Homo sapiens: one gene and its partners. The protein of the gene in region 2 purifies or fractionates together with the protein of the main gene of each other region. This does not show direct contact. Each region holds a gene or a part of one and is shown on either strand. Other genes may lie near its edges.

Region 1 (7,406 bases), on a different chromosome or scaffold from region 2:
TCCACCCTGGGTGATGAGAGTGAAACTCCATCTCAAAAAAAAAAAAAAAAAAGAAGTTAATGGGACCGAAAAATTTTTTTGTCACCATGTTATTGTCAAGTAAGAAAATGAAAAGCAAAGACAACTGTCTATTGCTAGCATCTCATAAGCAGAACGACATTCTAATAGTGTCCTCCATTTTCCCCCAAAAAGGAGGAAACTAAATGAAGCTATGTATTTTTTTTTTTTCATGGAAGACAAAAAAGTTGCCTCTGACCTTGAGCAAAATAGACATTTAGGAACTCACACAGCTCCAAACCTAGTATTTGTTTATCTCTTTTCCATTTCGATTTCTTTTATCTTTATTACCTTTTCTCCCTCCAAATGTCTGTTATTAGTTGTTTAACCTTGGGTAAGTTATTTAGCCTCTCTGATCTACATTTCCTAACTTGTGAAGTTGCTATAAGAATTAAGGGAGTTAACACATATGCTGGCCGTGCACAGTGGCTCACGCCTGTAATCCCAGCGCTTTGGGAGGCCAAAGTGGGCTGAGCTCCCAAGCTCAGGAGTTTGAGACCTGCTTGGGCAACATGGTGAAACCCCGTCTCTACTAAAAATACAAAAATTAGCCAGGCGTGGTGGTGTGCACTTGTAATCTCAGCCACTTGAGCCCAGGAGGTTGAGACTGCAGTAAGCTTTGATTGTGGCACCGCACTCTAGCCCGGGTAACAGAGTGAAACTGCCTCAAAAAGAAAAGACAAGCCAGGCGCAGTGGCTCATAACTGTAATCCCAGCACTTTGGGAGGGCGAGACAGGAGGATCACCTGAGGTCAGGACTTTGAGACCAGCCTGGCCAACATGGTGAAACCCCATCTCTACTAAAAATAAAAAATTAGCCCGGTATGCTGGTGCACTCCTGTAATCCCAGCTACTCGGGAGGCTGAGGCATGAGAACTGCTTGAACCCAGGAGGCAGAGGTTGCAGTGAGCCAAGATCATGCCACTGTACTCCGGCCTGGGCAAGTGTTAGACTCTGTCTCAAACAAACAAACAAACAAACAAATCAAAAACCAAAAAACACCACATATGCCTAGGACTTTGGACATTCTCATTATTTTTCAAGGCTGGCATGTCTTGAAGTGCCCTGGCTGAGGTTAGTGTAGGACTTAGGATAAGGATGAGGCTTTAGAGGGACAGAAGTGAAGTGGGACAGGAATATTAAGACCAAAAAGCCTCCTGGTCCACCTTCTGTCCAGAGCATATTCTGCTCTCTTTCTGATGCATTCCACGGGCTTTGCTTTTGTTCAAAATGAGAGCCGGTCTGGGAAAGGACTGGGAATAGTCAAATCTGCCATAAAGAACAAAATGGATGAAGCTTGACTTAAGAACATGAATACTGAGATATAGCATGCAGTTTTCAAGTTTAAGAAGTTGGAGGAACGCCTGAGAAGCTGCTGGATATTACATGGCCACTCCTTAGGTGCCTTCCGATTGTGGGAGGCACAAGTGATGCTTGGCAGTATTAACAAGCGTGGGGAAAACAAAGAGAGATCAGACTGTTACTGTGTCTTCGTAGAAAGAAGTAGACATAAGAAACTCCATTTTGTTCTGTACTAAGAGAAATTCTTCTGCCTTGAGATGCTGTTAATCTGTAACCCTAGCCCCAACCCTGTGCCTGCACAGACATGTGCTGTGTTGACTCAAGGTTTAATGGATTTAGGGCTGTGCAGGATGTGCTTTGTTAAAAATGTGTTTGAAGACAGTATGCTTGGTAAAAGTCATTGATATTCTCTAATCTCGAGTATCCAGGGACACAATGCACTGTGGAAGGCCACAGGGACCTCTGCCCAGGAAAGCCAGGTATTGTCCAAGGTTTCTCCCCATGTGATAGCCTGAGATATGGCCTCGTGGGAAGGGAAAGACCTGACCGTCCCCCAGCCCATAAAGGGTCTGTGCTGAGGAGGATTAGTGAAAGAGGAAGGCCTCTTTGCAGTTGAGGTAAGAGGAAGGCATCTCTCTCCTGCTTTTCCTTGGGAATGGAATGTCTCAGTGTAAAACTCGATCATACGTTCTATTTACTGAGATAGGAGAAAACCGCCTTATGGCTGGAGGTGAGACATGCTGGCGGCAATATTGCTCTTTACTGCACTAAAATGTTTGTGTAAAGCCAGACATAAATCTGGCCTACGTGCACATTGAGGCATAGCACCTTTCCTTAAACTTATGACACAGAGATCTTTGCTCACGTTTTCCTGCTGACCCTCTCCCCACCATTACTCTATAGTCCTGCCACATCCCCCTCACCGAGATGGTAGAGATAGTGATCAATAAATACTGAGGGAACTCAGAGACCAGTGCTGGCGCGGGTCCTCCGTATGCTGAGCCCTGGTCCTCTGGGCCCACTGTTCTCTACACTTTGTCTCTGTGTCTTACTTTTTTTCTCAGTCTCTCGTCCCACCTGACGAGAAACACCCACAGGTGTGGAGGGGCTGGCCCCCTTCAACAAGTCACCAGGCCACCAAGAAACCTCCTTCAGCTAGGTACATATCTAACACAGGCCCTTGGGGTCAAGAATGTCAAAACTCACCTCAAAAATTTATTTCTATTTCTCTGAGTTTCATTTCACTTTTTTAAACACACTTAAAACAATATTGTATCATCAGCTTTATTGTTGACTGGGAAAACTATGAGGACAGACAGGCTTAAATTATCTGTGCACGCAGAGGGAAAGATAAGGCATATTACCTTGTTGGAACTCTTTTTTTTTTTTTTTGAGATGGAGTCTCGCTCTTTCGCCCAGGCTGGAGTGCAGTGACGCGATCTCTGCTCACTGCAAGCTCTGCCTCCCGGGTTCACGCCATTCTCCTGCCTCAGCCTCCCGAGTAGCTGGGACTACAGGCGCGTGCCACCACGTCCCGCTAATTTTTTGTATTTTTTAGTAGAGAAGGGGTTTCACCATGTTAGCCAGGATGGTCTCTTATCTCCTGACCTCGTGATCCACCCGCCTCGGCCTCCCAAAGTGCTGGGATTACAGGCGTGAGCCACCGCGCCCGCCCCTGGAACTCATTTTTTAAAAAATTTTTTTGAGATGGAGTCTTGCTCTGTCACACAGGCTGGAGTGCAGCGGCGTGATCTCGGCTCACTGCAAGCTCCGCCTCCCGGGTTCACACCATTCTCCTGCCTCAGCCTCCCGACTAGCTGGGACTACAGGCGCCCACCACCACGCCAGGCTGATTTTTTGTATTTTTAGTAGAGACGGGGTTTCACGTGTTAGCCAGGATGGTCTCAATCTCCTGACCTCATGATACGCCCGCCTCGGCCTCCCAAAGTGCTGGGATTACAGGCATGAGCCTCAATTTTATATTTTGCCCTAGACTCTTATTCCTTAAATCTTCCTTAAAATAGTGGTTGCAAAATGGAGGCCCATGGGCTGGATTCAGCCTGTAAAACTGTTTTGTTTGGACTGTAGAGTTAAAAAAAACAAACAAACCCTGTATTTCCAGCATCTCATTAAAAATCGTATGAGGCACCGGACTTATAGTGGTACAAGACAGCAACTGTCTCTAGCTGACAGTTGTTTCCTTTAAAAGCCGTTAAGAGTTCTTTAATTTGCGAACCCTCGCCATTCACGGAATACCTGCTTGTGTTCTTGTATTCAGGGCACTGGAGTGCGTGCCAGCTGGTCTGGAAGCAGCTCCAGCAAGTCACTTACACGGTGGCCAGGGGCGGCCTGACTTTCAATCCGAGACCCGCCGGGAATGACTTTGGGATAATCACAACCTCCGGTCCTCAGTTTCCTTACCTGTGAAATGGGGCTGATAACGCACAGCTGTGGGAAGCACCGGCCCAAACGCAGGGCTTGGGGACACGACCACCATCCCCGCCCACGGGTCCCCGCGCCAGGCTTCGCTCTCCACCCCTCCCGCCGCGGGCCCCAGCGCTTCGCCGAGGTCGGCCCCGGGCGCCAAGAGGCGTGGTCGGCCCGAGCGGACCCTCGCGGCGGCCATGGCGTCGGTGGTGGAATACAAGGGCCTCAGGGCCGGCTACCACTGCGGCTACTGCGATTCCAAGGAGGGCAAAGCGTCCTGCGGTGAGTGTTCCCGACGCCGGAGTTGGCGCGGCCGCCGCGCCCCGCACAGGCCCTCGGCGGGGGAAAGGGCAGGCTCGCACCCCGACTCCCGCTTCCCTTCCCCTCTTGACTCTCCCCATCCTGTTTCCCTTCCCGCTCTGTCTCTCCGCCTCACCCTCACTGACGACGGCGGCCCCTTATGGAGAAGGAACGGAAATAGTGGAAAGCTGCCCTCGGTCAAGATGGCGCGGGCGGCGTCAGCTCCAAGAGGCGCCGGGCCGGCCGGGCCTGCGGGCGCCCGAGTGGCTTCGCGCGAGCCTCGGGAGGCTCCCGGGCGGCGCGCTGCATTGTGGGGTGGCGGCGGCGGCCGCGCTAGCGACGCGGGGCCGGGCGGCTGAGCGTTCGCGGGGCCGAGGCCATGGCTTTCTGGGCGGGGGGTTCGCCCAGCGTCGTGGACTATTTCCCTAGCGAGGACTTCTACCGCTGCGGCTACTGCAAGAACGAGTCGGGCAGCCGCTCCAATGGTGAGCGAGCCGGGCCGGCGGGCGTGGGAAGCCGGGCGCCCGGGTCTCGGGATCCCAGGGTCCCCCAGCGAGGACGCGAGGGGGCCGGAGCCCCTGGCCCCAGTGCCACGGCCGAGACGGAGGGGGCACTCTCGGGAGGGCCGCGGCGCCGGCTTAGCGGGGCAGCTTCGCGGTGCCTGTTCTGCAGGAAAATCCTAACCGGTGCCCGTACTCTCGAAATCGTGGTGGTCTCCCCAGAGTCGGGAGACGGACGCCCGTCTGGGGTAGATTGTGTGAGGTGAAGGACGGCGCGCAGTGCCAGGGAACGCCCCAGAGCCGTAGTTAATGGCCGGGGCTGACCGGTGGGTGCTGCGGTGGGAGCGTCCCGGGAGCGAGGGCGAAACGCGGTGCAGAGGGAGCTGTGGGTGTGCACACAGGTGCCGGTCATGTATGAATCAGACTTCCCTGGACGAATGTACAGGAAGGATGAGCCCTTTGCATCTCTGGGTTAAAAAAAAAAAAAGTTAAAAAAAAAAAGGACAAGAAACTGGTGACCGCGGTCGCTACCGGCGAGGGATTCTGTTTGTCCTGATCTGTTTGAAATTTTTACCATTTGCTTATATGCCGTGTCTTTCCTCCACCCACCCGGACGACAGCAAAGCCAGCCCACAAGTTTGTTTTGTTTTTCCATCGTGATTCAGATTTCTTTGGGGGAGATTTGTTGCTGGTAAACAAAACATCGTGTTTATTTCCTCTCTTGCCATGCATTTGCCAATATAGAATGTAGACTCTATTATTTTAATAGAACAGTCTAGCTTTGTGGAAAACGAGATTCGCATGAAAACACACAGGCATTTTCCATGAAAAAGGTGTAAGTGGGGAATGATTTGGTCGATAACGGTGTGTGCATTTGCTCCTTCATTAAAAGTGTTTATTAAGTGCTACTTGTGGGCAGCGGTTTTGAGTAGACAGTTATGCAATCGTTAGAAGTGAGGATTATGAAGACTAAATGGAAAAATGCTTCCAGTTTGGACTTAAACGGAGAAAATCAACAGGATGCAAATGGCTTATGCGACATGATTACAGTTCTGAAAGGAAGAAGGCCCGGAAGTACACCAAATCGTGACAGTGGTAATATGGCCTTAGAGTATTGTGGATTTCTACCTTCTCTTTTTCAGAATTTTTGTATTTTGGCTATAATATTTATCAAATCAATAAGTTACATTAAACGTGCCTAAAATTAATATTTTAATAGGTCATTACTTATTTTTTTCCAATAATTGTGATAAGAGAAAATTGGCTAACATAAATGTCTTGTATTTCACGTTTTGTCGAAGAAACCTGCCTGCAACCTTTCCATCAAGAGAAAATAATCATCAATTTCTAGTATCTCGATTTTAATTTTAATACTCTTTATTATGGGGCATCTACTTACTTGGTAGGTGAGTTTTATTTTTTTATTTACAGATGATGAAATTGAGGCTTATTGGGTAACTCCTTAGTGTGAGTGAGTGCCTGCCAGGTGTCGGGATATTTCTGTTGGACTCCAGTGCCATGCTTTTCCCACTATATTCTGCTCTATCAAGCCTGTCATATCTCTGATGTGATTTACTGTTTACAAAAGGGAAAAATCCATTTATTTATTTATTTATTTTGAGACACAGTTTCACTTTTGTTGCCCAGGCTGGAGTTCAGTGGCACAATCTTTGCTCACTGCAACCTCCACCTCCCAGGTTAAAGGGATTCTCCTGCCTCAGCCTCCCGAGTAGCTGTGATTACAGGTGCCCGCCACCACGGCCGGCTAATTTTTTTGTATTTTTAGTAGAGACGGGGTTTCACCATGTTGGCCAGGCTTGGTCTTGAACTCCCGACCTCAGGTGATCTACCCGCCTCGGCCTCCCAAAGTGCTGGGATTATAGGCATGAGCCACTGCACCTGGCCCATTTCTTTTTTAACTTTAATTTTTTTTTTTTTTTTAAGAGGCAGTCTTGCTCCTTTGCTCAGGCTGGAATGCAGTGGTGTGTTCATAGCTTACTGCAGCCTCAAATCTCAAATTCCTGGTCTCAAGCCTCCTCCCACCTCAGCCTCCCAAGTAGCTGGGACCACAGGCACAGGCCACAAAACCTGATTAATTATGATTATTATTTTTTTTTTGTGAAAACAGAGATTTGGTATGTTGCACAGGCTGGTCTTGAACTCCTGACCTCAAGTGATCTTCCATGTTGGCCTTCCAAAGTGTTGGGATTATAGGCTTGAGCCACCACCTCATGAAGCCTTTAGTTCTGATATGCCTTTAAATGTTTCCTCATAGTCTTCGTTTTTTTTCATAGTTGCGTGATTATTCCATCATGTTGACAACATCATAGCCCCTGTAATCATCTTCCTGTTCCTTGGCATTTGAGTTACTTTCTTTCTTTCTTTCTTTTTTTTTTTTTTTGAGACAGAGCTTCACTCTTGTTGCCCATGCTGGAGTGTGGAGTGCAATGGCTCGATCTCGAGTCACTGCAACCTCCGCCTCCTGGGTTCAAGCGATTCTCCTGCCTCAGCCTCCCAAGTAGCTGGGATTACAGGCATGTGCCACCATTCCCGGCTAATTTTGTGTTTTTAGTAGAGATGGGGTTTCACCATGTTGGCCAGGCTGGTCTCAAACTCCTGACCTCAGATGATCTGCCCATCTTGGCCTCCAAAAGTGCTGGGATTACAGGCGTGAGCCACTGTGCCCAGCTGAGTTACTTTCAGTTCTTACACTTAGAAGGAATATTGTTACATACTTTTCTCCAATTTTTGATGCTCAAGACTGTACTGTAAATATATACCTGTATATAAATCAGGAGAACTAATAAGCACAAAACATTT
Region 2 (7,023 bases):
GCCAGATGTGGTGGTGCACACCTGTAATCCCAGCTACTCAGGAGGCTGAGGTGGGAGAATTGCTTGAACTTGGGAGGTGGAGGTTGCAGTGAGCTGAGATTGCACTACTGTACTCCAGCCTGGGTGACAGAGTAAGACCCTGTCTCAAAAAAAAAAAAGAAAGATCACATAAGAAAACAAAACACAAGCACGAAAGCTGCAGAGGCTTTTGAATCTACCCCTCTAATTTGAATCCAAGGCCTTAGAGAGAAGACTGAGTTTACACCAGAGCAAAGTGTGGGTTCCTGCTCTTGGTTCTCCTTCGTGGTGGCTAAGCTGCTTCCCTTCCCTGAGCACGAACGACCATTCAGCAAATGGATACAATCCTATTTGCAGGAAGACAAATGGTTGCCAGGATGGGAGCCGGGGCAATGGGCTTCACAGCCAGGGGCCTGCTAGGGTCTCCTAGGGTGGTGGTGATGGGGCAGAAGAGGAGGAGGAGATGAAAGGAAAAATTATGAAGGAGTAAAATGAGCCCAGGGTTCCAAGGCTGCTTGAGATAGGTCTTTGAGGACTGGTGGGGTGGGGTGGGGGTGGCCAGGGCTTTTCAGAGAGGGCAGAGGCTGCAGAAGTCCAGGAGGCAGCCCCTGTGCCAGGGGTGATGAGTGAATGGGGCAGAGGCTCCGTGGGTCTGGGCAGTGCCAGAGGGCACCAGGGGCAGCTTAGGAACCTCTGATCAGGGGCGGGCAGACAGCCACAGGCCTTCCTGTTCAGCTCCCAGCTCATCCTTGTTCACAGAAACTCTGTGTGTTATCTGAGACGATGAAACGTGGTGCTTTGTTTACAGGACTAAGCTTGGAATTGCCTGTCCCACAGCAAGAGGCTATGGAGCTGGGCCACGGAGCAGGTAGGACAGGCAGACCAGGGATGTGCTGAATGCACATCCAGGCTTCTGGAGGGACTCCCTGGGGCAGCAGGGCACCGGCCCTTTCTCCTCCCGCTCCGTCTTGTGTTGGCCTCCAGACCCACCATCGGCCCAGGCTTCCTAGGGGGGCATTCTGTTGGAAGACAGAAGGAAAAAGGAGGGAACGGAATTACTGAGCCCTCCCATCCTGCCATGTGCAGGGATTATCACCCCGATATGGTCTCCATCCTGAGGGGGTGACTCAGGTGCTCTGAGTCTTGTGTGTACCAGAAGGGCAGGGCTGTGGGGGAACATGGTGAGGGGCCTGGCCTCAATGGATGGGAGGTATATATGGGGTTACACGTGAGCCAAGAGCAGGGGTAGTGTAGCCCAAGGAGTGGAGGGGAGTGTTCCAGGCAGGAGAAATAGCTCAGGCAAAGGCTTGGGAGGGAGAGACGGCTGGCACTTTTGTGGAGTCCCGAGAGCAGGCACTCTGCCCTGAGGACAAGAGGAAAGATTTTGATGCAGGCGTGACTGAGTCAGGCCCGCTCTGAGAATGGTCCCCAGGGGTGAGTGCAGGTTGGCTGGGGCTGGCAGGTGGGATGGGGAGAAGAGAGTCCAGTGAGTTGGGGCAGCGATCCTGCTAAAATCTTCCTCCAATGACCTGAATGCCCAGGGGCTTGTTAAACACTCAGATTCAGGGCCTTTCTGATGCAGCAGCTCTGAGAGGGTCCCAGGCATCTGTATTTTTAATGAGAGCCTAGGGAATCCTCATACATGGCCACATTTAGATAAACTCTGCGGAGGTTTATCATCCAGGGGATATGATGGTTTAGCTTGGGCTCAGAGGCCTGACGGCCAAGATGCCCAGCCCTTATGTATCTTTTAAGAGGACTTGAAGTTTTGGAGGGAAGACCACCAAACATATTTACAGCTGTAATCTGGGGTGGAGGATGAGGCCAGGCTGTGAGGAGACACTGAAGGCTGAGAGCAAGAGACCTAGAGAAGCGGAGGCTGTGGGCAGGGACGTGGGAGACAGGGAGAGGCGGGGAGGAGAGAGCCTGGGAGGTGGCTGGGATGGTGCCACTTCTCAGCCCTGGCGAAGGGAGGAGGTAGGTATTGGGGAGCAGTCTTGCATTGGAAGCAAAGTCTGGAAGTCCCATCCAACTCCAGTACTTCCCAGGCATGTGGCTTAGCCCCAGGAACGCCTCTGCCAGTGCCGCTGCTGCCAGATTCTCACTGCGGAGAGTGAGGGGGAGGTTTCAAGATGGAAAAGTGGGGAAGGGAACTATCCAAATGGAGCCAGGGACATGAAAGCACAGACAGGCCAAGTCCCTTGCTTGCGGTCACACAGCTAGGCCTCAAGGCGGGACAGGCTTAGGCGGCAGCCCTTGTTGCCCCAGGCAATGTGGACTAACCCTGCCCGTGGGAGGCACGCAGGCTGGCCTCTCTTCTCCCATTGTGTCTCCTAATTTCCCACCCATGCCTCTGGTTCCTGCGCTTCCTCTCCGTCCCTCTCCCCTTCTCTGGCTGTGGAGCTCTGGGGCTCTTTGTCTGTCCGTTTCCCCTCCTCACCCCCATCTCTGCCCCCTCCCCACCCTCTACTTTCTGCCCTTGTCTGCGTGTCTCTCTCCCTCCCCCTCTGTTTCTCTTTGTCCTGCTCAGGTACAACCACTTTCACCAGGGCCCATCTGAATGACAAGGAGGGCCAACAGGACTTGGACCCCTGGAAAGCGGCCTACAGTTCCTTGGACACCTCCAAGTTCAAGAACCAGGGTCTGTCATCCCCACAGCCCCTGCCCCTGGGAGCCAGCGCTCAAGGCAGCTCCCTAGGGCAGTGCCACTTGAAGGAGATTCCCCCTCCACCCCCGACTGCTGCCAGCAGGGATTCTCTGGGCATGGACCCACAGTCCAGGTCCCTGAAGAATGCGGGCTCTCGATCCTCCTCGAGAGAGAACAGGGCCACCTCGGGAGAGGGGGCTCAGCCATGCCAGGGGACGGATGACGGTCCCAGCTTGGGGGCTCAGGACCAGAGGAGCACGCCCACGAACCAGAAGGGCAGCATCATTCCTAACAACATTCGCCACAAGTTTGGGAGCAATGTGGTGGACCAGCTGGTCTCCGAGGAGCAGGTGTCATAGCAGGGGCCAGGAGGGTGATGCAGAGTCTTATAATGAGGACATAAGATAAACTCACTCTTGAGTACAGAGTCCCTATAATAATACCACTAGAAAGCAGTATCTCCTGAGCATCTGCTGTGTGCCAAACACTGTGCACTGTTTAAACTTCACATATAACAAGTTGTTACATCTTCCCAGCAACCCATGAGGAAGGTACTATTATTGTCCTCATTTTATAGATAAGGAGACCGAGGCTTAGAGGAGTTAAGTCAGTCAACCAAATTCACCTAACTGTGCGAGACGAGGGTGCAAACTGGGTCGGCAGATTCTGGAACTCTGATCCTTAATGACTTTGCAGTTAAAAGCCTTTTGTGTGAATTGGATGTTTTCCATGTGATCAAGTCTCCCAAAGAAGACAGCATTTAGTGGATGGATAGCATTTATTGGGAATCAGAAGACGTGCGTTTGAATCCTGGACCTGATCCTAAATGCTGGATGACTTTGGATAAGTTACTTACCCTCTCTGGGCTTCAGTCTCCACATCTGTAAAGCGAGGCAGTTGCACTAGATCAGGCTGACAAATACATGGTGAGCGTATCACAACCCTCCCAGCCTGCATTCATGGCAGACATCACTAGTCAATGCCAGCACTCTTTTCCACCCGATATAGCATTCCAGGCAGTCATTACAAATCAACTGACACGAGATAAAATTCATCTACCGTTTCTGGTCAAATGCTATGTTCTTTCTGTCCTGGCATTCTGAGACATATTTTTAAAGCCACCATCTCAACCCTCATAGCAACTGCATTGTGTGGAAGGTCAGGCAGGAGTTATTGCTTCCTTTATAACAGATAGTATAACCAAGTCCCAAGGAGGGGCTACGATCTGCTTGGGTCACAAAAGCTGGGGGTCAGGCTTCTCCTAGGCTCCCCTTCCACTCTGTCATCTTAAAGTGCAGTGACCCCACCACCAGCAAGTCTGGAAGGTCACAGTCTTGACATGTTCTGCCCCACTTGGAGGAACTTGTCCCAATTTGAGGTTGACTCTGTGGTCACCACCTCTCACCACCCTGCCCAGCCTTGGGAGAAGTCCTTTCTCTCTTCAGCCACCGTTGTCCCTGGCTGGAATCAAGAAATCCGTGTTTTCTGCCCATCTGTAACTTATGTCACAAGTGTCATTGAGCCAGCAAGTGTCAGAGCTGGAAGCCACTTCAAAGACCATCCAGTTCCACCCTGCCTTCACATTTTACATGTAGGGAAACTGAGGCCTAGAGTGGAGAAGAGGCTTGCTGAAGTCAACAGCTGATATATTGCAGAACTGGAACTCAAACCTAGGTGTCCTGCCCCTGGACCTGGGCTCAGCTTCTCTGTGTGTCAGTTTCCCTATTGGTATGAAGAGGGAGTTGGCCTCATTGAAAGTTAAGCACCCACCCAGAGCTGCCCTGTGTGGTGCCTCAGTTGTAGGAGGCAAGCCAGGGCTCTGTGCCCTGCCAGCCATGTGAACTGGGTGATCTTTGGTCTCCTGAGGCCCGCTTTCCTCATTTATAAAATGGTGGGAAGAGTGGCACCCTATAGAGACCCCCCGTCCCAATGTTGCAGGTAGCAGATGCTCAATGCTTGGAAGAGGTTTTATGATCATTAACTTGATGCCCCCCACCCACAGCAGTGCAGATGATGAGAGGAGTTGGGGCTGGGGCCTTTGTATACCCCAGCTCCCCAGCCCTGTGAATAGGTTGAGGGCTGCAGGCTACAGGTGGGATCGGGGTGGGGAGGGCAGGGTCAAGGGAGGAGGAGTTGGAGGGAGATATGGGGCTTGAAACTGCTTTTCCATCCCCTGTCTGTCATCCCTGCCTCCCTGCTCAGGCTCAAAAGGCTATTGATGAAGTCTTCGAGGGCCAGAAAAGGGCAAGCTCATGGCCCAGCAGGACCCAGAATCCTGTGGAAATCTCCTCCGTCTTCTCAGACTACTATGACCTCGGCTACAACATGCGGTCAAACTTGTTTCGAGGTCAAGTCAAAGGGCAAGGGTGGGGCCGTGAACACCCATGGTCTCCCAGGCATTGGGCAGGGAAGGCCTTTGGGGTTTCCACTCCATATGGGGTCTAGGACCCCAGGGCACATCTTCAAGGACACTTATTTCATGCCCATGTGTCCTCTATGTCAGCTTGCGAGTGCTGGGAACATCCAGTCCCCTGTCCTTGATGTGTGGATGATTCATCCCAGTTGGCAGTCAGGCACCTCTGGTCCCTCCCCTCCCATCCCCCCCTCCCCTCCCCTCCCCCCTCCCCTCCCCTTCTCTCCCCTCCCCTCCCCTCCCCTCCCCTCCCCTTCCCTTTCCTTCCCTTCTTTTGTTTTTTGAAGTCTCACTCTGTTGCCCAGGCTGGGGTGCAGTGGCACAATCTTGGCTCACTGAAATCACCACCTCACAGGCTCAAGAAAGCAACCCTCCCACCTCAGCTACCCCCCTGCCCCCATAAGTAGCTGGGACCACAGATGCGCGCCACCATACCTGGCTAATTTTTTTCTTTTCTGTTTTTTTTTTTTTGTATTTTTGCTAGAGGCAAGGTTTCACCATATTGCCCAGGCTGGTCTCAAACTCCTGGGCTCAAGTGATTCACCCACCTTGGCCTCTCAAAGTGCTGGGATTACAGGCATGAGTCACTGCGCCCTCCCCACCTCTTGTTCTTAATCTGCCAGTAGGAGGCCCAGGACCCAGTAGAACTGGGACTGCTGCTCCCCACACCCCTAGCCCCATCCCAGGCACCTTTGGTCACAGTGACAATATCAAGTTTCTTTGGTTCAAAGCTCAGCTCAGCCACTCACTAGCTGGGTATGACCTTAGGTGGGATCCTCAACCTCTGCAAGCCTCCGCTGCCTTCTCGGTACAGTGGGGATGATAATGAGAGTATGGCCCTTGCTGGGTCATTGGCAGGACTTTATGAAGTGCCACATGAAGGTGCTTGGCCGAGGCAAGTCGTGAGCACTCAGTAGCTGTCAGGCTATCATTTTTCTTCTCCAGAGCCTGGAGGTGGCGCCACCTGGGAAGAAAGGAAGGGTGGGTTGGAGGCTCTGACATTTACACAGGGTTTCCATTGGATCAGTGTAGTCCTGTTTGGTTGGGGTGGGGAGAGTGCTATTAGCTCCATTTCACGGGCAGATTTCAGATCATTTGCCTTAGAACTCTCAGTAGTCTGCATTGTGCCTAGGACTCAAAGTCAGGTGTTCCTTCTGCCTTCAAAGCCTCATAGTCTTTTCTTGACCACTAAGTCACCTCCCTAGCTATGATCCTGTTCCCAGGGTCTTCTGGATGGCTCAGATGCCTGTCACAGCACGCAGGGGCTTCTCTCTGCCCCACATTCTGGTTTGGCCTCATTGCAAAATGAGGCTGTTTCTGGTATGGCTCCTTCCTCTCTCCTCACTCCAGGCCCTCTCCAGTGCTCCCAGGGCCTGACAAACCTCTTCCACCTGGCTCGGATCCCTGTCACCTGAGGAACCAGGTGCCCACTGGAAGCCTTTCTGGAGTTTTCTCTGAGCTTGGAGAAGGGATGGTGTCAGGGAGGAAAGCGAGAATACAGTTCTGCTTGTTCTCTGTTCCGGGCCTTCCAGATCCTGCCTTCCAGTTCTCTCTTTAACAACTATCGGTCACCAAATAGCTATTCCATACAACTTTGTATGATAATGTCTACATAAATGTAAAATAATCTATTTTTAAAAATGTCCATGTCCCATCATCCCACCTGGGAAGTAGAACTGTGCCAAGGGTGTGCTGGAGCTCATAGCAAATTGCACCAGCTCACAAGAGGCAATTGTCTCTCTGAACTGACTGGCACATAAATGCTGTCTTAAAATTGGCCATGCTAGTAGTATTTACACTCTGGAAATTGGCAAACACTATGAATCAGGGCTTCACCCTGCCACACAGTGCTGTCAGTGTGCCCATCCATCTGTCCCTCTCTGTTTCCACCCACCCAGGGTTAGCCTTTATACTTGCTGTTTGAGGTTGGTGAGGCTGGTATGGC
Region 3 (7,023 bases), on a different chromosome or scaffold from region 2:
GTCAAATAAAACAAGAGCCTCCTAGAAAGAAAATTAAAATATTTTACCTGCAAGAATATGTAGGCTCTCCTACTTTAAAAACACGACCACAAAGATGAGAAGGTTTGTTTGCTTGCTCAAGTTTTGGAAATCCAAATGCAGGATCTTCACCACAAAGGTACCATTCCATTGGTCCCAACAAAACATGCTGTGCCAGCATGTCTTCTTTCTGTGGAAAAGGGTTGGGACCCCTGCAGTAGATTTTGGGTACATAGTGGGCTAAATGCTGGTACACTTCTCTAGTGAGGTCAGTTGCTTGCAGCCATTTCTTTAAAAGAAGAAAAGAGAAGAAATGGTTTTAAACACCAACAAACTAATTTGAACAAATTCACCCTACTTTCTTTTAGGTACAAAAATAATGACAAAAGCATATTAAAATATTTTGTTTACAACACTCACCACCGTACGTTAGAAATTTAATCTATTAAAATGCCAAGTATGTTTAAATCCTACTTTTAAGTGTAAGTAAAATTAAAATGAAACAAGCCTCCCTCCTTCCCTGCAAAATGACTCTTGAAGCAATCTTCTCTAGGCAGTACCAGAAAATAATTACAAGAAATCATTATATAAGATATGAACCATTGAGCTCACCTAATGTCCTTCCTAATGCTTTGCTCAAATGTTATTCTCATTGTGATATCAATTCTCACGTCAGTTTGTCCATAGGAAGAGTGTACGGTGAATATGAACAGCCAATATGTACGGTGAACATGAACAGCCAATACACATTTCTTAATGATTGATAAGCAAGTTTATATACCAGTCTCTTATTGAATAAGTCAGTCCACAAGAGACTGTTGTACCAATTATGCCTTCTTTCTCTGATCAACTTCTCTCTCTCTATAAGGCCTTTTCCGTTTGCTCTCCCCACTAAAAACAAATTTTAAAGCATGATTCTACTTAGATCTCATAGGTACCAACTCAATAACTGAATGCATGATCTCCCCTCCATGCTCCACCAAAATCTGTTATTTTCTCCATTTCCAGCTCAACCTGGGTATCCACACCGAAAAATCTGAAAAGCTTCCCAGCACTTTGGGAGGCCAGGCCAAGCAGATCACCTGAGGTCAGGAGTTCAAGACCAGCCTGGCCAACATGGTGAAGTCTCTTCTCTACTAAAAATATAAAAATTAGCTGGATGTGGTGGCGCATGCCTGTAATCACAGTTACTCAAGAGGCTGAGGCAGGAGAAATCGCTTAAACCCAGGAGGCAGAGGTTGTAGTGAGCCAAGATCCAGCCTGGGCGACAGAGCAAGAGTCTGTCTCAAAGGACAAAAAAAAAAAAAGACTCACTTCTGCTAGAATGCAGTTAACTGAACCGTGAACAAAACCCACAGATGGAGGGAAAGAGGAAGGGGAAGTGAGTTGAAAAACTACCTATTGGGTACTATGCTCACTACCCAGGTGCAATATACTCATGTAACAAACCTGCACATGTATTCCTTAAATCTAAAGTAAAAGCTGAAATTAAAAAAAACCTCCAATGTTTACCTATGGATTACTACCTAATTCCAGTTACATTTTTATTTAAAAAAAAAAAAAAAGTATGTTCAAGTGATATGTAACATCATAAGAAGTCAACATAAGGTCTTCATTTTAGCTATTACTTGTATATTCTTCAGACCACTCCTTCTAAAAACAACATACAGAGAGATTTTAAATATGCATGAGGTGATGTATATTAACTTTCTAGTCAATTTCTGTTTTCAGAGAACTTTTACTAAAAATGTAAAAATTTTGTTCATAAGTTAAGGGACTGGATAGAAGCTTATAACCAAAAACGGTGAAAGAGTTTTCATGCTTAAAGTGAAACTAAACTATTTTCCAAATATTACTAACATTGTTGTGTTTACATTATGCAAGTAGGAAAGAGACTAAATTACTTTCAAAACAACAGCATTTCTTCCCTGGTGGCCAAGTGGTTAGGGAAAAAAAAATAAAAATAAAAATAAAACAGCAGCAGCAGCATCATTTCTTAGGAGACAATCCTACAGGCTTTAAGTATTCTCTCCCTTCAGAGTGACTCAATCAAAATTTTATATATACATACACATCCTTTAAGCTCAGTAATTATAAAGAGGACAAGTTTTAAAAAAAGAAAAAGAGTCCTCAACAAGCATACTAGAATCTTATTCTTTGAGCTAAAAGACCTCGTTTTGGCCTCATTCAAAGGTAAATGTCTCATTTTTCACCCATTGTCAGCAAACCAAAACAAGAATGAAGGTAGTCAAATGATCCTAAGCGCTTTTTTTTTTTTTTTTTTTTGAGTCTCGTGCTGTCGCCCAGGCTGGAGTGCAGTGGTACGATCTCGGCTCACTGCAACCTCTGCCTCCCAGGTTCAAGTGATTCTCCTGCCTCAGCCTCCTGAGTAGCTGGGGTTACAGGTGTGCACCACCACACGCGGCTAATTTTTGTATTTTTAGTAGAGACAAGGTTTCACTATGTTGACCAGGCTTGTCTCAAACTCCTGACATCAGGTGATCTGCCCACCTCGGCCTCCCAAAGGTGCTAGGATTCAATTTACTCTTTATGAAAGAAAAATTAAGCAATAAGACCAAAATAATTCACCTCCATGATCCTAGAAAGTTAAGTGCTTCGGACTTTTTTTTACAACATATTGAAAGATTTTATTTAAAAACCAGTTTTTTTCCTTATATTTTATGTTCCCATTCCTGTAAAACTTCACTGTTGCAAAATTTTAATACAAGAATGAAAGGTTACTTTAGAAGGGATGCTTTTTTTTTTTTTTTTTTTTTTTTGAGACGGAGTCTTGCTCTGTCACCCAGGCTGGAGTGCAGTGGCGCGATCTCGGCTCACTGAAAGCTCCGCCTCCCAGGTTCACGCCATTCTCCTGCCTCAGCCTCCCAAGTAGCTGGGACTACAGGCTAGCATGGATGCTTTCTAAAAAAAAATTATGCAGTCTAGTAACTGTAACGAGAGCAAATTTGTTCATAGATTTCTTCAACAAAAATTCAGACGCTAGTATCAGCTTCTGGTTAAGAAAAAAAAAAAAAATCGGCCAGGCTCTTTGGCTCATGCCTGTAATCCCAGCACTTGGGAGGCCAAGGCGGGTGGCTCATTTGAGTTCAGAGGTTCGAGTCTAGCTTGGGCAATATGGCAAAACCCTGTCTCTTCTAAAAATAAAAGAAGATTAGCTGGGCATGGTGGTGCATGCCTGTAGTCCCAGCTACTCAGGAGGCTGAGGTGGGAGGATCACCTGAGCCCCGGAGGTTGAGGCTTCAGTGAGGCATGATCACGCCACTGCACTTCAGCCTGGGTGACAGAGTGAGATCCTGTCTCAAAAAACAAACAAACAACAAAAAAAAAACTAGCCACTTTACATAAAAATATTATTAGTAAAACAAGCAAGTATTTCACTCTTTATTACATATTATTATAAATAACAAGACTTAAAAGTCTGGTCCAAGAAAGGCATGCATATGCTCCCCATTTTTCAAATCTTTACTACTCCTGGGCACAGTGGCTCACGCCTATAATCCCAGCACTTTGGGAGGCCAAGGTGGGCAGATCACTTGAGGCCAGGAGTTCGAGACCACCATGGCCAACATGGTGAAACCCCATCTCTACTAAAAATACAAAAATTAGCCAGGAGTGGTGGTGCACGCCTGTAATCCCAGCTACTTGGGAGGCTGAGGCAAAAGAATCGCTTGACCTCAGGAGGTGGAGGTTGCAGTGAGCCTAGATCACGCCACTGTACTCCAGCCTGGAGGACAGAGTGAGACTCCGTCTCAAAACCAAAAACTTTACTACCATTATATGAAAAAATCACAATCACCTAAAAGATTTGGGCTCTATTACAGGCACTTTAAGCTGATTAAACATACATACTTAATATAAAAAGCAAGAAAAATTTATGACTGTCTTTCAGAAGTAGCTCACACATTTCCCCAAAGAATAAAATCTATAGCTTTTCATATTAGTTCTAACATATGCTAACTGCAACTGTTTCTTCAACATGAAAAATTAAGATTTCCAGTTTGGTTGGCCTTTTGTCTTTATTTCAGACACTTGTAGCTGTCACACCCATGTGGCATAAGAGAGTAATAAGCATTCACTATCTTACTACAAGTCCCTCTTAAGGGAAGTAAAGAAACTGTCAACTCATTCCTCTAAAGTAAACATGTTATGACAATGTTTCCAGGAGCTTTCCCTCTATTAAATACTAAATTTAAGCCTTGGGATAGAAAGCAAGTACAATAAAATAAAAATGAAATGAAAAATGAAAGAATCCCTAGAGGTTAGTTAGCCTTTTATTACAGTCTCTATTATTCTATACCCAATTAAAATTGTATCCTTTAACTACTTTTGGTTTTGCTTTCAAACAAGGATAAGCAACATGTAAGTTAATCATAAAACAACTAGTGCTCATAACCATAAAAACAATAGTGTTTAAGTGGGAGTTTTAGGGAATATATTGAGAAAAATTTTAAACAAATTATATTAAGAGCTCTACAAATTAAGGAGAATATTTACAAATAAAATATAGAAATTTAATAGGTCAAAAGACTAATTGAAAATAGGCAAAGAAGACATAAAAATGGCCAATAAGCTCATAAAAAGATGTTCCAACATGACTCATGAGGGAAATGCAAATCAAAACCACAATGAGAAGGCATAACACCCAAAAGAATGGCTGTAATCAAAACACAGGCAAAAACAAGTGTTGGCAAGGATCTGGAGAAATTGGAACTCTCATGCACTACTGGTGGGAATGTAAAACAATGCAACTGCTTTGGAAAAATCTGGCAGTTCTTCAAAATAGTTAACATATGACCCACCAATTTCACTTCTAGGTATGTATATACCCAAGAGAAACAAAAGCATATGTCCCCACAAAAATTTGTAAAAAATGTTCACAGCAACATGATTCATAATACCCAAAAAGTAGAAACAACCCAAATATTCACCAACTGATGAACAGATAAATAATATATGGTTTATCTATACAAAGGAATGTCATTTGGCAATAAAAAAGAAAGAATTACTGACACAGGTTGAGCATCCCTAATTTGAAAACGTGAAATCCAAAATGATCCAAAATCTGAAACTTTGCATGCCCACACGATGCTCAAAGAAGTGCTCATTGGAACATTTGGATTTTGGATTAAGGATGCTCAACTGGTATAACTGCAAATATTTTAAAATCCAAAAAAATCCAAAATCCAAAACACTTCTGGTGGCAAGCGTAACAATACTCAACCTGTACATGGTACAACATGGATAAATATTTTATTTTTATTATTTTTTTTTTGAGACAGAGTCTCGCTCTGTTGCCCAGGCTGGAGTGCAGTGGCGCGATCTTGACTCACTGCAAGCTCCGCCTCCCGGGTTCATGCCATTCTCCTGCCTCAGCCTCCCAAGTAGCTGGGACCACAGGCGCCTGCCACCACGCCCGGCTAATTTTTTGTATTTTTTAGTAGAGACGGAGTTTCACCGTGTTAGCCAGGATGGTCTCGATCTCCTGACCTTGTGATCTACCTGCCTTGGCCTCCCAAAGTGCTGGAATTACAGGTGTGAGCCACCGCGCCTGGCCCAACATGGATAAATATTTAAAACATTATCTAAGAGAAAGAAGTCAGCCACAAATGACAATATGTTGAATTCCATTTATACGAAATATCCAGAATAGGCAAATCTACACAGACAAAAATTAGTAGTTGATTAGACCTCAGGAGTTTAGGTGTGAAAGGGAAGTGACTGCCAATAGGTACAGGATTTCTTTTTTGGGGTGATAAAAATGTCCCAAAATTGATCATAGTGATGATTGCATGAATCTGAATATACTAAAAACCACTGAATTTAACTGTACAGTATGTGAGTTATATCTCAATAAAACGGTTTAAAAAATGTACAGCAAAAAGATAACCAATACAGACCTAAAACTCTACATAAAACTTAACAAATTCATTATTTATTAAAACAAAATTTTTTTTGAAGACAGGGTCTCACTGTATCACCCAAGATGGAGTACAGTGGCATGATCATAGCTCACTGTAACTTCTAACACCTGGGCTCAAGCGATCCTCCCTGCTTAGCCTTCTGAGTAGCTAGGACTGCAAGTTCATGCCACCACACCCAGCTTATTTATTTTATTTTATTTTTTTTTAGTAGAGACAGGGTATAGCTAATGTTGCCCAGGCTGGTCTCAAACTCTTAGACTTAAGCAGTCCTCCCACCTCAGCCTCCCAAATAGCTGGGATTACTGGCATGAGCCAGTGCTCCCAACCTGTATTTCTTTTATATTCAGGGAAAAAGATGGGGTCCCGCTCTGTCACCCAGGCTGGAGTGCAGTGGCGCGATCTCGGCTCACTGCAACCCCAGCCTCCTGGGTTCAAGCAACTCTCCTGCCTCAGCCTCCCGAATAGCTGGGATTACAGGGGTGCACCACCATGCCCGGTTAATTTTTGTATTTTTAGTAGAGACAGGGTTTCACCATGTTGGCCAGGATGGTCTCTATCTCTTGACCTTGTGATCTGCCCTCCTTGGCCTCCCAAAGTGCTGGGATTACAGGCAAGAGCCACCACACCCGGCATGTTTACTTTTAAAACCGTAATCACTCACTGGAACATACTATAACCATATGTAGTATAGAAAGTAAACAGAGCCAAGAAGTGTTGGGAAAGTCATACTTATGGAGTCAATTCTAACAAGAAAAGAGAAGAATGAGAAGAGAGGGCCACTGTAATATCCTAAACTTACAAATATTAAAGAGTCAGCTTAGATACTTTTCTTTGTGAGGCATACTAGCTGGAATGGATGGGATCACAAAAAGTTCTTCCTCCTTATAACAGGAATAAGAAAAGCGGTGTGTAAATGAAATGTGGAAAGGTTGACACTAGTGCTCATTAGGTGATTTTTAAATGGAAGTGATCCTAACAAATTACCAATGACAGAGGTCTAAAGCCTACAATCACTGTTTTCTCTACTTGTTTCTCTTCCCTAAAATGTGCTTTCAACCTAAGA
Region 4 (7,023 bases), on a different chromosome or scaffold from region 2:
CCAGGCTGGTGGCCACAGTGCTGCTGTCCGTGGTCGTGCTGCTCCACGCCCTCCTGGCCATGGGCTGTAAGGTACGGGTCTGGGGTGGCCACAGGTGGGGCCGAGGGGCTAGGGGGGCATGGGCTGGCCCTGCCTCTGACCCCAGGGGTCTTGTGCAGTTGTACTTCTTCCAGTCGCTGCCTCCGGAGAACGTGGCTCCTCCACCCCAAATCACATCTCTGCCCTCAAACATCGCGCTGTCCCCTACCTTGCCGCAGTCCCTGGCCCCCTCCTAGGAAGGCCCGGGTCCCACAGGTAAGGACTATTCCCAGCTGGGCTAAGGGGGCTGCCCTCCCACTCCCAGTCAAGGCGAGAGGTTCTGGGGCCACTCCCAGACAATTCTTTCTTTCAGGCAACACCTAAGTGGACCAACCCCTCTGCCTGTCCTGCCCCCCAGACGATGACTGAAGGCTCCTTTGACACCTTGAGATGATTCTGCTACTTTCCAGACTTTTCTTACAAAGCAAACACTTTTATTTTCTATGCAAAGGTGATTCAGAGAATTTATATAAAGGCGGGCGAGGGGCAGCCGAGCAGGGAGCTTTGGGACAGGGCTGGGGCCCCCATATCCCCCCCGGGCCACCTGCTTTCCCTCCTATGGCTCCCCTGGAACAGGAGGGAGAGCCAAGGGGGCGGCCCAGCCTGGACAGCGCCCGCTCCTGCCTGGGTGCACACACGGCGGGCCTGAGCTCCAGCATCTGAGTTTGGGGGTATGAGAAACAGGGGAGCAGAAGGAGAAGAAAACTGCCTGTGCTGCAACACGTTTCCTCATTTATTTTTTCTTTCTTTTTCTTTTTTTCTTTTTTTGGAGGGAGAGGTCCCTGCAAGGTCCCTTCCCGGGCAGGGGAGGGATGGAAATGCCGTCACAGTAGTAGGGACTGGAGCGTCTACAAGGATGGAGGGGAGCTACTCAGGCCTAACGTTAGCTACAAGGAAAAAGGACGCCTTCCGTGACAGATCCTTGAGGTGTCTGTGTCTGCCCCAAGTGGCCGGCAGTGGCCTTCCCTCCGGGCCCAAGGCCTGCAGCCACCTGCTCTAACTCTTGAGTGGGGGGGCGGGGGGGGACCTGCAGGGGCTCGGGGACAGGACAGCAGCAAGAGGCAGGGGCCGAGGACGGAGGCCTTCCCGACAGTGGGGTGGGTTGTACATTCAAGTGTGAGGTGAACCCTTTGGTGGGGAGGGGGCCCCTGAAGCCTCGGCGGGGCCACCCCTCCCCGCGGCGCCTCTGAGTCTAGGGAGAGGGGCTGCTGGCTCGGCCCGGCCGGCCTGGCTTCACAGAGGGTCTGCGGATTGACACTGGTTCTTTTCATAAAAAAATAAAATTAAAAAAAGCAGCATGTCACGTCCGTTGTGACCGAGGCCTGGTCGTCGAAGGGGAGGCCCCGCCTGGCCAGGCTACCTTCCCACTGGAGACAGGCAGGGGGACAGGTGCTAAGGGACCTGGCAGGCAGGGCTGGCAGGCCCCATGGCGCCTGTTCCAGCAGATGACAAGCCCAGGTCAGGGTAGAGCGGGCAGGAGGGGGGACGAGGGCTCCCACAACATGATTTTGTGTAAAATATGGCAGCGACACACGCTCAGGGCCGGGAGGTGGGGGTTAGGGTGGGGACGGCGGCAACATCGTGTAAAAAAGTGTCCCAGTTCCCATAGCAAAGAGAGCTGTGACCGGGTGTTCGAGCTTCTCCAGTACAAGGGGGAAAGCCGCCCGGCGGGGGCGGCGGGCAGGGACATCATTTGGTTTCCTGGTGCTGTCAGTCCGCGGGGCGGGCCCCTAGCTCCCGTAGTGCATGGTGTTGGTCGGGATGGACATGGGCGACGCCATGGAGATGGCGGGGCCGCCCATGGTGAACTGGCTGTTGACTGCATAGTGGGCACTCGTGCTGCCACCACCACTGCCCTGGGCGCCGGAGGACCCTGTGGAGCAGGCAATGGCAGTGAGGGGCTGCCCTGGCCCGCCCAGCCCCCAGGCAGAGTCACAGAGAGAGAGAAAGGGCAGGCAAGAGGGCAGGCGGGCGGCCGGACAGAGGATGGCGACTCACACGCTAGCTCGGCCCCCACGGGCCCTGCCCCCGCCACCCTCGTTACCTTGGACAATCCCCGTGCTCATTATGGAGCCCATCCGGGAGTGGGTGTGATTGACAATCCCCGTGTTGGCTGCGCAGCGAGAGGGAGGAAAGAAGGAAGGGAGACGGCGTCACCGCCCCCAGCCACCCAGCCCATGCACAGCAGCAGGCTGCAGAGCGAGGCAGAGAGGACGGAGAGCCTCGGCCGAGAGCCCCCAGGAAGAGGAAAAGGTGAAAGGACCAAGCAGAGGCCGACCCTGGTCACCACAGGCCCTTCCCGGCCCCTGGGCAGTCCTGGGCATGGCTCCCTGCTGCCCCTGGCCCTGGGGGACACTCACCTAAAGGAATCAGGTTGTTGTGGCCCACGCTGGAGCCACTGGCAATAACACTGCTCAAGTCATAGGCGGTCGGCATCCCTGTGTCCAGAGAGGGAGACGTCAGGGCTGGAGGCAGAGGGGCCAGGCCTGCGGCGAGGGCGGCCTCCCGGGTTGGCTGGGCATTGGGGTGGGCCCTGCTCACCTGCCACGGCCATCCCGCTGCTGAGGTTGTAGGTGCTGCCCGTGTTCCACATGTTTTCCGAGGGAGATGTGTAGTGGGAGCCGGGTGGGGGTGAGGGCGTTGTGCCCGTGTATCTATGGCAGAGACAGAGCCATGGGCAGGGGCAAGGGGGTTGCAGGGCCGGGGCGCCCCCCTGTGCAGGCAAGGGGCCCCTCCTACCTAAAGAAGGGGTTTTTCAGATCCAGGAGGTTACTGGACTTGGAGCCGGTCTGGTCCACCTGGGCCACAATACTGATGTCGTAGCTCTGTCTGCGGACAGGGTGCAGGCCGTGGCATGAGCTGCTGGGCAGATGGACCCCTGCCCACCACCACCAGCCCCAGGGAGCAGTCGCACCTTTTGTTGGCAATAAGCAGACATGTCCCTGAGAGCGTGTCCCCTGCCTTGGCGAACAGTGGTGACTGGAACAGGCACCGCACCTGGTACCAGTGGGTCAGGGGCTCTGTCGGGGCTGTGGACAGCCACACGGTCATTCTGTGGAGCAGGGACAGGCACATACTTGACTGGGCCGGCGCCACCACTGGAGCCACCACCTTGTATGCCTTGAGTCCTCCCCAAGCACCTGCCCCCTCTGCCAGGGACCCCTGGGACCCTGGAGCAGAGACAGGCTGGCCCCCAGGCAGTCCCAGACACAAACATGAGCAGGCATACATGTACACACGAGGGGCCCGCAACCACGAGATCCCTACTCACCCTGACATGTGCCAAGAGACAGACACAGACCCATGAGGGACAGACACTGGGAACACAGGACACACACACACATACACACACACACACACACACCCCACCCACAACAGTCTCTTGCTCCGAGACAGGCTCTCACTCCCATTGGAAGGGATGGTGGAACCTGGAGCCATGTTCCACCCCCCCAGCCAGGTTGCAGCTGCAGGAAGCCCTGGGAGTGGGGAGGAGGCAGCATGGGCTGCTCTGCGGCACTCACATGGAGCCGATGAAAGCAACGTCAAACCAGAAAGCCAGGCCGTGGACCAGCCCTGAATGCAGCATGTGGAATTTGAATGGGATTTCTATCCTGGAAGGCAAAGGGCAGTGGCTGCTGGGGAAGCCAGACAGGCGCTGCCGAGAGAGAAGAGGGGGTGCCAGGTGCAGAGGCCTGGGGCCCCCGCCCACCATCTGCCCTGGGACGGCAGGATGCCGGCGGGAGCCAGGGGTGGCCCTGACCTTCGGCCTGAGCCAGGCCTGGGAGGATGGAGTGTGGGTGCCAGTACCTGTGCAAATCTCCTTCTTTGGCTTCTAAGAAGTTCACCGTGTACTTGACAGACTTGGCCATCAGGATCCGGATGTCAAATGTGTCCTGGGAGAGACCACAGGTGTGACGTGGCATCTGACGCCAGGGCCAGCATGGGAGGGGAGAGCCCTGCCCCTTCCCCCAGGTCTGCCCACGGCTTCTAGGCTGTGCAGCTAAAACGAGCTTGCTCTTCCCAGACACGCCGTGAGGAGGGGACCGGCACAACGCCACCGAGGGCAATCAGGTGACAGCTCTCCAAATGACAAGTGTTTATCCACATAAAAGATTTGGCACTACAGGAGTTTAACCTCCAGATACATGAACACATCAACAAACTTACATGTATAATTAGATTGTCCGTGGTAGCGACACACTGGAAACCATCTAATTAAACCAGTGATGGCTCTCCCATCAAAGACCATGCGGACGTGAGAAAGAATGAAGAGGCTCTTTATGAACAGATGAGGAAAGATCTCCAAGCTAAATCATTAAGCAAGTTAACCAAAAAAGCAAGTTAAAGAACTAGGTGCTAGCTGGGTGTGGAATTGTATGCCTGTAACTCCAGCTACTCAGGAGGCTGAGGCAGGAGGATCGCTTAAGCCCGAGAGTGTGAATCAAGCCTGGGAAACACAGGGAGACCCTGTCTCTTAAAAACAACAACAACACTAGTGCTGCTGTCCACTCCCAGCAATGTTTATATCCGACTAACACACCTGCCATGAACTATGTAAACCGAATAAAATCCAAAGAAAAGAATAAACCAGTTGTTGGAAGCACTGGTGACCAACCAGAGCGGCCAGGATTTTGGGGATCAAGCTCCTGGAAAGGAGGGAAATGCCCTTTCTGGAGGGAGCCCTTTCTGGCCTCTACCTTTTCCCCATGGGGAGGGCAGAAAACGGCCACCTCGACCTTTCAGCAGCTTCCTTGGGTGGGGAAAGCAAAATGGGAGCTCAGGGTTACCAAGGCAGCTCGGATTCAAGGGGCTGTGATGTCAAAGCAAAGGGAAATAAGTGCAGGAGGGCAAGGTGGGCGGTGCACACTCAGTGCGCTTGTGAAATTGGCCAACTCCTGAGCTTTGAGCGAGGCAGGGCATCAGAGGCTAAGACACCAAGCAGAAAGCCGCTAATAAGAGGCTCAACGCCAGGTGCAGTGGCTTATGCCTATAATCCCAGCACTTTGGGAGGCCGAGGCGGACGGATCACCTGAGGTCAGGAGTTCAAGACCAGCCTGAGTAACACAGTGAGGCCCCATATCTACAAAAAAATAAATTAGCCGGGCATGGTGGCACACTCCTATAGTTCCAGCTACTTGGGAAGCTGAGGCAGGAGGATCACTTGCGTCTGGGAGATCGAGGCTGAAGTAAGCCATGAAGTGATTGAGCCACTGTACTCCAGCCTGGGGAACAGAGTGAGATCCTGTTTCAAAAAACAATAAAAGCTAACGGGTGGTTCAGCAGCATATTGGTAATGAGGCTAACCACTGGACTTGCATTAACATTACCAAAGGCTGTACCATAAAGCAGCACCTTCTCAAACTGTGGCCTCTTCCAAGGCACCCTCATCATAATACAAAATTTGCATAATACCACCAAAATATTTCCTGCTTTTTTCACTCATTCACTCCCCAGTGATATCACAAAAGACTGAACACGCTGGGCATGGTGGCTCACGCCTGTAATCCCAGCACTTTGGGAGGCCGAGGCAGGCGGATCACCTAAGGTCAGGAGTTTCAGACCAGCCTGGCCAACATGGCGAAACCCCATCTCTACTAAAATTACAAAAAACTAGCTGGGAGTGGTGGCAAGCGCCTGTACTCCCAGCTACTCAGGAGTCTGAGAATCGCTTGAGCCCGGAAAGTGGAGGTTGCAGTGAGCTGACATCATGCCACAGCACTCCAGCCTGGGCAACAGAGCAAGACTCCGTCTCAAAAAAAAAAAAAAAAAGAAAAAGAAAATGAGAGAAAAAAATGGATGGAAAAGACAGAAAAGAGTATAACAATCATCTGAGATATGGTGAAAAGGTTCACTGTACACGTAATTGGAATCCCAGAAGGAGAAAGAATGGGGCAGACGTAGTGTTTAAAGAGATAGTATCCAAGATAGTCCAAGAGTCTCCCAAAACGAATGAAAAACATCAAGAGCAGGGGGAAAACAGAATAAAATGGAACCTTTTTTTCTTTTTTTTTGAGACGGAGTCTCACTCTGTCGCCCAGGCTGGAGTGCAGTGGTGCGATCTCGGCTCACTGCAAGCTCTGCCTCCCGGGTTCACGCCATTCTCCTGCCTCAGCCTCCTGAGTAGCTGGGACTACAGGCGCCCGCCACCACGTCTGGCTAATTTTTTGTATTTTTAGTAGAGATGGGGTTTCACCGTGTTGGTCTCAATCTCCTAACCTCGTGATCTGCCCGCCTTGGCCTCCCAAAGTGCTGGGATTACAGGTGTGACCCACTGCACCTAGCTTTTTTTTCCTTTTGATTTTTAAATCATGGATCTATGTATCAAAAATCTCAAGTAAAATCAATCAATAAATCACATCAGCTCACCAAGGATAAATTCATCTAGTAATGGTTCTTTTTTATTTTTATTATTTATTTATTTTAATTTTAAAAATAGCGATGGCGTCTCTGTGTTGCCCAGGCTGATCTTGAACTCCTGAGCCTAAATGCCCCCTCTGCCTTAGCCTCACCTAATAATGTTCCACATGTATTGCATGTGTGCTGTGTGCTAAGTGTCTACATGCATTGACACTTTTGGCCCAAATCTCTGTGAGAGCGCTGTGCAGGGCAGAGGAGAGGGCTCAGAGAGGGGCTGTAGCTTCCTGAGGGCTGCACAGCTGCACAGCAATGGCAAGTGATCACTGCAGCAGTACCCTGGAGGCCCTACTCACCACCACAGGCTGCCGGAAATACTCATCCACCGCGGCACCTCGGAGGGCCGACAGGTCCACTCCATGGAAAGATGGCTGGTACCTGTGGACAGGCCCCACCCCCACAGCAAGGTCAGGGCTGCAGAAGAGGCAGGTGGGGTAGCCCTGCCTTCTCTCCCAGTCAGCCCTCATCTAGCCCAAGTCTTTCAGAAAAAGAGGAGTGCAGGCTCTCTGGGGAGCTGGGGCTGTCCCTGAG

What was found.
Region 1: the proteins of CIMIP4 (region 2) and ATE1 purify together in Homo sapiens (affinity purification with mass spectrometry; 3 studies listed by BioGRID and IntAct, with this or other methods). This does not show direct contact.
Region 3: the proteins of CIMIP4 (region 2) and UBR2 purify together in Homo sapiens (affinity purification with mass spectrometry; 3 studies listed by BioGRID and IntAct, with this or other methods). This does not show direct contact.
Region 4: the proteins of CIMIP4 (region 2) and CARM1 purify together in Homo sapiens (affinity purification with mass spectrometry; 3 studies listed by BioGRID and IntAct, with this or other methods). This does not show direct contact.

Annotation. Positions count from the first base shown.
Region 1 is NC_000010.11:121,925,009-121,932,414, reverse strand, and holds the start of ATE1 (arginyl-tRNA--protein transferase 1), read left to right. Parts: upstream 1-4,383; 5' UTR 4,384-4,465; coding exon 4,466-4,571; intron 4,572-4,683; exon of another isoform or gene 4,684-4,912; intron 4,913-4,942; exon of another isoform or gene 4,943-5,524; coding exon of another isoform or gene 5,525-5,681; intron 5,682-5,708; exon of another isoform or gene 5,709-5,992; intron 5,993-7,406. UniProt on the Homo sapiens protein: Involved in the post-translational conjugation of arginine to the N-terminal aspartate or glutamate of a protein. This arginylation is required for degradation of the protein via the ubiquitin pathway. Does not arginylate cysteine residues.
Region 2 is NC_000022.11:36,997,829-37,004,851, reverse strand, and holds part of CIMIP4 (ciliary microtubule inner protein 4), read left to right. Parts: intron 1-826; 5' UTR 827-864; coding exon 865-886; intron 887-2,548; coding exon 2,549-3,015; intron 3,016-4,867; coding exon 4,868-5,012; intron 5,013-7,023.
Region 3 is NC_000006.12:42,567,018-42,574,040, reverse strand, and holds part of UBR2 (E3 ubiquitin-protein ligase UBR2), read right to left. Parts: intron 308-7,023; coding exon 48-307; intron 1-47. UniProt on the Homo sapiens protein: E3 ubiquitin-protein ligase which is a component of the N-end rule pathway.
Region 4 is NC_000019.10:10,916,543-10,923,565, reverse strand, and holds the end of CARM1 (histone-arginine methyltransferase CARM1), read right to left. Parts: intron 6,871-7,023; coding exon 6,789-6,870; intron 3,972-6,788; coding exon 3,886-3,971; intron 3,690-3,885; coding exon 3,600-3,689; intron 3,131-3,599; coding exon 2,993-3,130; intron 2,908-2,992; coding exon 2,818-2,907; intron 2,733-2,817; coding exon 2,620-2,732; intron 2,517-2,619; coding exon 2,439-2,516; intron 2,192-2,438; coding exon 2,123-2,191; intron 1,952-2,122; coding exon 1,809-1,951; 3' UTR 491-1,808; downstream 1-490. Other genes in the region: protein YIPF2, read left to right, coding at 1-71, 159-275. UniProt on the Homo sapiens protein: Methylates (mono- and asymmetric dimethylation) the guanidino nitrogens of arginyl residues in several proteins involved in DNA packaging, transcription regulation, pre-mRNA splicing, and mRNA stability.